2 linked regions of the Homo sapiens genome follow. The gene in region 2 interacts genetically with the main gene of each other region. Each region holds a gene or a part of one and is shown on either strand. Other genes may lie near its edges.

Region 1 (3,500 bases), on a different chromosome or scaffold from region 2:
CAGGTCCAAGGGGGCTCTGGGCTGGGATTACAAAGTATGTGTGTGCAGACGGGTGGGTTGCTGCTCTCAGGGAATGGGGTTGGCTAGGGTAGCTTTTTTGGGGAGTCAACTTTATTGAAGTAAATATACGGTTGACCCTTGAACAACACAGGGGTTGAGGGCATCAACCTCCTCCCTGCAGTCAAAAAATCATATATTAACTTTTGACTCCTCAAAAACTTAACTACTAATAGCCTATTGTTGTCAGAAAGCCTTGTAGATAAAGTTGATTGACACTCATTTTGTTTGTTATATATATTATATACTGTATTCTTACAATAAAGTAAGCTAGTGAAAATAAAATAAGAAAATCATATGGCCGGGTGCAGTGGCTCACACCTGTAATCTCAGCACATTGGGAGGCTGGGGCAGGCGGATCACTTGAGGCCAGGAGTTCAAGACCAGCATGGCCAATATGGTGAAACCCTGTATCTACTAAAAATACAAAAATTGGTCTGCTGTGTTGGCGCACGCCTATGATCCCAGCTACTCAGGTGGTCAAGGCATGAGAATCACTTGAACCTGGGAGGCGGAGGTAGTTGCAGTAAGCCGTGAGTCACCCCACCACTGCGTTCCAGCCTGGGCGACAGAGTCTTGCTGTCTCAAAAAAAAAAAGAAAGAAAATCATAAGGAAGAGGAAATATATCTACTATTCTTTAAGTCGAAGGGGATCATTATGAAGGTCTTCATCCTTCACATTGAGTAGGCTGAGGAGGAAGAGGAAGAGTTGGTCTTGCCGTCACAGAGGTGGCAGAGGTGGAGGCGGAGGAGGTGGAAAGGAAGGCAGAAAAGGCAGGCACACTCAGTGTAACTTACTGAAAAACATCCAGCCACGTGTGGTGGCGCATGCCTGTGGTAATCGCTACTTAGGAGGCTGAGGCAGGAGGATTGGCTGAACCCAGGGGTTTGAGGCTGCTGTGAGCTATGATCACGTCACTGCACTCCTGCCTGGGCAACAGAGTGAGACCCTTTCTCAAAAAAAAAAAAAAAAGAAAAGAAAAAGAAAAAATCCATGTGTAACTGGACCTGCGCAGTTCAGACCCGAGTTGTTCAAGTGTGCACTATACACCAAAAAGTGTGCCGATCGCAATGGTACAGCTCAGTGAATTGTCACAGAGTGGACCCACTTCATGATTGGGCTCAGACAGTCTGAAAACCAACCCCAGAGGTCCCCTTGCATTCCTTCCAGTCTCCCTGTCCCAAGAGCAGCTATCCTGACAGCATGGATTAGTTTGGCCAGATTTTGAACTTTATTCAAATGGAATTACATAATATGTACTTTCCTGTGTCTGGCTTCTTGGTTAACATTTTATTTATTTATTTATTTATTCATTCATTTAGAGGCAGGGTCTCACTCTGTCGCCCAGGCTGGAGTGCAGTGGTGTGACCTTGGCTCACTGTAGCCTTGACCTCCCCAGGCTCAAGCGATCCTCCCACCTCAGCCTCCTGAGTAGCTGGGAGTACAAGCACGCAGTACCACCCCCGGCTAATTTTTGTATCTTTAGTAGAGACCGGGTTTCGCCATGTTGCCGAGACTGGTCTTGAACTCCTCCTGGGTTTAAGCCATCTGTCTGCCTCAGCTTCCCAAAGTGCTGAGATTACAGGTGTGAGCCACTGTGCCTAGCCATCATTATGTTTTGAAATTTATCGGGATTGGCCAGGCACGGTGACTGGCACCTGTAATCCCAGCATTTTGGGAGGCCGAGGTGGGTGGATCACCTGAGGTCAGGAGTTCGAGACCAGCCTGGCCAACATGGTGAAACCCCATCTCTACTGAAAATACAAAAATTAGCTGGTTGTGGTGGTGCATGCCTGTAATCCCAGCTACTCAGGAGGTGGAGGTTGCAATGAGCCGAGATTGTGCTACTGCACTCCAGCCTGGGTGACAGAGCCAGACTCCATCTCAAAAAAAGAAAAGAAAAGAAATTCATCAGTGTTATTTAATGGTTGGAGTTTGTGTTGGAGTTTATTTAATGGTTGGTGTTTACTGCTGTACGTAGTCCCTTTTGTGAATATGCCACTGTTTATCCATTTTCCTCTGGATCGGCATCTGGGCAGCTCCCAGTTTGAGGTTTATTACAAAGCATGCCACTTGTAGCCCTCCTGTGCCTGTCTAGGCAGACACATGTCCTGTGTCCTCTCGGTGTGTACCTAGAAGTGGGGTTGGTATATGTTTAGAGATGCTACCTGGGCGGGATTTTGCAGGTGAAGGACCCAAGGACCCACAGAGCATAAGGGACTTTCTCAGATCACATAGCCCCTTCTCAGAGCTGCTCCGGGGCCCCTTTCCCCACAGAACAGTAGCTGGAACCAGGCCTGGGGCTGACGGTCAGGTGTCCATTGTCCCACTAGCCCCCTTTGCTCCTTTCTATCAGTCCTGGAAGGCCCCCTGTGGCCTTAGGGTTGGTGGCTCCCTCTGCCCCTGGGGGTCCTCAGCCCTCATGCTCCTCTACCCAGTACCGTCAGCCTGCCAGGACTGGAGAGAATGGCCCATGTGTCAAATCCCAGCGCAGGACACTCTTGGCACCTGTTCATGCCCAGTGAGGAGCCAGATCTCAGCAGTTGGGGGGCATTTCTTCACACCCCTCCTCAGTCTTCATGCTCTTCCCCACAGCTCTAATGGTACCAAGTGACAGGTTGGCTTTACTGTGACTCGGGGACGCCAGAGCTCCTGAGAAGATGTCAGCAATACAGGTACCACAGGGGTGAGGGTCTGGGACATGCAAGCATTCCCACCAGCCCCAGCGGGGTGCTTAGCAGAGGAGAGAGGATGCAGCTTAGATCAACCCACTCCCCTTTTTCCCAGCACTCAGTCAGGTACAGGCCTGGGGAAGTGGGGGAGTCTCAACAGGAAGGGACCCAGGGCTCGTTCTCCGGGCAGAGCACCTCACCCAGGCTCACAGAGGCCAGCTCAGAGGCTGTGACCACGAGGGTGCGCCAGCAGGTGGCTGGAGGGGGCCCAGGCTGCACCCGCCCACGTGTCACCTGCCTTGCAGGCCGCCTGGCCATCCGGTACAGAATGTATTGCCAAGTACAACTTCCACGGCACTGCCGAGCAGGACCTGCCCTTCTGCAAAGGAGACGTGCTCACCATTGTGGCCGTCACCAAGGTAATCAGGTGACGCCCACCCCACCATCCCACTGCTGGGCCTTCCCTCTGCAGGGGGAGGTGGGCCTGAGAGCATGTCTGGGCTGCCCTCTCCCCAGGACCCCAACTGGTACAAAGCCAAAAACAAGGTGGGCCGTGAGGGCATCATCCCAGCCAACTACGTCCAGAAGCGGGAGGGCGTGAAGGCGGGTACCAAACTCAGCCTCATGCCGTGAGTACCACGAGGAGGGGTTGGGGAGGGAAGGGGCCTTGGTCCTCCTGAAGGAGCATCAGGAGCAAGCAGGGAGGCCAGAGTGAGGGGCTTGGGTGTTGGGGAGGGCCTCAGGAGGAGGTGCAGGGTGCGGGTGCGGGA
Region 2 (2,732 bases):
ACAGAGCAAGAACCTGTCTCCAAAAAAAAAAAAGATCAGCTGGGCATGATGGCACGCACCTATCTATGGTACATATCCCAGCTACTCAGGAGGCTGAGGTGGGATGATCACTTCGGCCTGGGAGGCGGAGGCTGCAATGAACCAAGATCATGCCACTGCACTCCAGCCTGGGCGACATAGGGAAATGCTGTCTTAAAAACAAAAACAAAAAACAAACAAACAAACAAAAAAAAAAAGTCGGGGATCAACAGTAACCCTGTATCTAAAGCTAGTGAATGCCTTTGTAGTAGTATCCCTACCATGTATTTCTTTCTTTCTTTTCTTTTCTTTTTTTTTTTGGAGAAGGAGTCTCCCTCTGCCGCCCAGGCTAAAGTGCAGTGGCACAATCTCAGTTCACTGCAACCTCTGCCTCCAGGTTCAAGCGATTCTCTTGCCTCAGCCTCCCCAGTAGCTGGGACTACAGGCGTGCACCACCACACCTGGCTAATTTTTGTATTTTTAGTAGAGACTGGGTTTCACCCTGTTGGCTAGGCTGGTTTCGAACTCCTTACCTCCAGTGATCCACCCACCTTGGACTCCCAAAGTGCTAGGATTACAGGCATGAGCCACCGTGCCCAGCCACTGCCATGTACTTCTCCACTTATTTATCTGGCTCCCTCACTAAACTATGAGCTCCTGAGGGCACAGAGCCTAGCACAGTACCCACTGTCCAAAGAATAAAGGAATGAATAAATGAATGGTGGCTACCATAGCAAACATCTGCCAGGTACCAGGCATTACCATTAAAAACATGCCCTCATTTAATACTAACCACCCTTCAAGAAATGCAGTAACACAAGGGATGACCAAAATTCAGAAAGGTAAAATAATTTGCCCAAAGCCACATAGCCACTCAGCTACTGACTAAGAATCAAACGCGTTTTCACCCCAAGGCTCACGTCTATGTGCCGCCATCCCCAGAATCATCATTGTAAGATGGATAAACAACCTCCCTGTGACAGAAAGACAGCAAGCAGTACCTGTCCAGGAAGGGCAGCTGCATCCAGGCCAATCTCATCCCCGTAGCTGAAAACAGGGGTCCCTGGCAGGGTGAAGAGCATCAGCTGGTAGAGTCGGAGAAGTTGAGCCGGCAAGAAGGAAGTCAGGAGCCTTGCCTGAGACAACTACAGGGAGAGACACTCCAGTGAGCCCCATAACCCACCTCTGCCTCTGTCTCCCAACAACCCTTTCTTCTCCCATCTGCCCCCTTTCCCACCAGCATGGTACTCACACTCCAGCTGCACCAGCGATTGCCAGTGGCATTCAAATACTGTGTGACTAGGGATTTTGTATGCTCCCCAGTAGAACCAGAATCAGACAGGTATGAGCTAGTCAACAGCAAGTCTTTGTTGGATTCGAGTAGGCTCAGGATCTGCTGAAGGTCGGAGGAGTTAGTCCCCGCAATCAAGAGCCTGCAGAGGGGAGGGAGGAGTTCAAGGTTAGCACAAGAAAGAATGGGGCCAGGCGCAGTGGCTCACGCCTGTAATCCCAACACTTTGGGAGGCTGAGGCGGGTGGATCACTTGAGGTCAGGAGTTCGAGACTGGCTTGACCAACATGGAGAAACCCCGTCTCTACTAAAAATACAAAATTAGCCAGGTGTGGTGGCCCGCGTCTGTAATCCCAGCTACTTGGGATGCTGAGGCAGGAGAATCGCTTGAACCCAGGAGGCAGAGGTTGCAGTGAGCCAAGATCACGCCATCGCACCCCAGCCTGGGCAAAAAGAGCGGAACTCCATCTCAAAAAAAAAAAAAAAAAAAAAAAAAAAAAAAAAAAGCTAAAGAAAGAATAAAGGTAAAGAAAATGCTCTAGACTAGGAATCCCCCCTTCTTAGGCCTAGCACTCCACTGAGGGGTTCCCACATTGGAGCTGAGTCAGCAGAATGGCTCCTGCACCCACCTGTCTTCACTGAAGCCCTTGGTGATATTTTGCCACTCAGCCAAGAATGAGGATGCATCCTAGAAAGAAAAAAGCAGAATCAAGGACCAGAGAATATTATGAGGCTCTAGCTGAGTCCCTCTGTTCTCGCCCAAGCTTTGTCCCTAATGTGGAAAGGGAACTCACCTTCAGATTCTCTATGTCCCGAACCTGGAACCCATCCACGCCAGCTTGCAGCCAAAACTCCAGAGCATCCTATAGGGGGCAGAAGAATAAAGGACAGACATCAGTTCTCAGGAAAAGGCTCAGAAAATTCCAGCCCACACTAAACCTCACCCACCACACACTTCCCCGGGAGCTGGGGAGAGTCCTGTGCCTTGCCTGGGTCTTCCCCACCTGCACTACAAAGGCTTAGCCTTTGGACCCCTCCAGCTCTACCCTTCCACTCATTTTCTTAGTGCTACAGCATTTTACTTCTCATTCTTGCCTCTGGCAAATCACACAGCTTCAACTTTGAAAGCCACAGAAAAGGCCCCAGAGAAAAGGTATGTCCATAAACATAACTTCGTTTAACACTTAGCATTGGAATGTTAGCATACCTATTTTAGAGATGAAGAAACAGACCCAGAGAAGCAGGGAGACGCGTCCACAGTCATAATCAGTGAGCAGCAGACAGGATCTAAAATGTCAGTCAAGATCCCCCCTCTCCCAGTTTCCTGAGGCCTGGGGAAGGTGTGAGTACAATAACTGCTCAGAGCAAGGCCAAGGATGAAAGATTGAAATTCAAAGCATAGCCCCAGGGCAGTTTAGATTTGA

Evidence for each region. Genes that interact genetically often act in the same process or in processes that back each other up.
Region 1: changes in SLC3A2 (region 2) and CSK are lethal when combined (synthetic lethality), as found in Homo sapiens cells (one large-scale study listed by BioGRID).

What each region holds. Positions count from the first base shown.
Region 1 is NC_000015.10:74,795,580-74,799,079, forward strand, and holds part of CSK (tyrosine-protein kinase CSK), read left to right. Parts: intron 1-2,632; exon of another isoform or gene 2,633-2,653; 5' UTR 2,654-2,718; coding exon 2,719-2,733; intron 2,734-3,035; coding exon 3,036-3,149; intron 3,150-3,246; coding exon 3,247-3,359; intron 3,360-3,500. UniProt on the Homo sapiens protein: Non-receptor tyrosine-protein kinase that plays an important role in the regulation of cell growth, differentiation, migration and immune response.
Region 2 is NC_000011.10:62,883,896-62,886,627, reverse strand, and holds part of SLC3A2 (amino acid transporter heavy chain SLC3A2), read right to left. Parts: intron 2,640-2,732; exon of another isoform or gene 2,516-2,639; intron 2,172-2,515; coding exon 2,103-2,171; intron 1,997-2,102; coding exon 1,938-1,996; intron 1,452-1,937; coding exon 1,271-1,451; intron 1,164-1,270; coding exon 1,020-1,163; intron 1-1,019. UniProt on the Homo sapiens protein: Acts as a chaperone that facilitates biogenesis and trafficking of functional transporters heterodimers to the plasma membrane.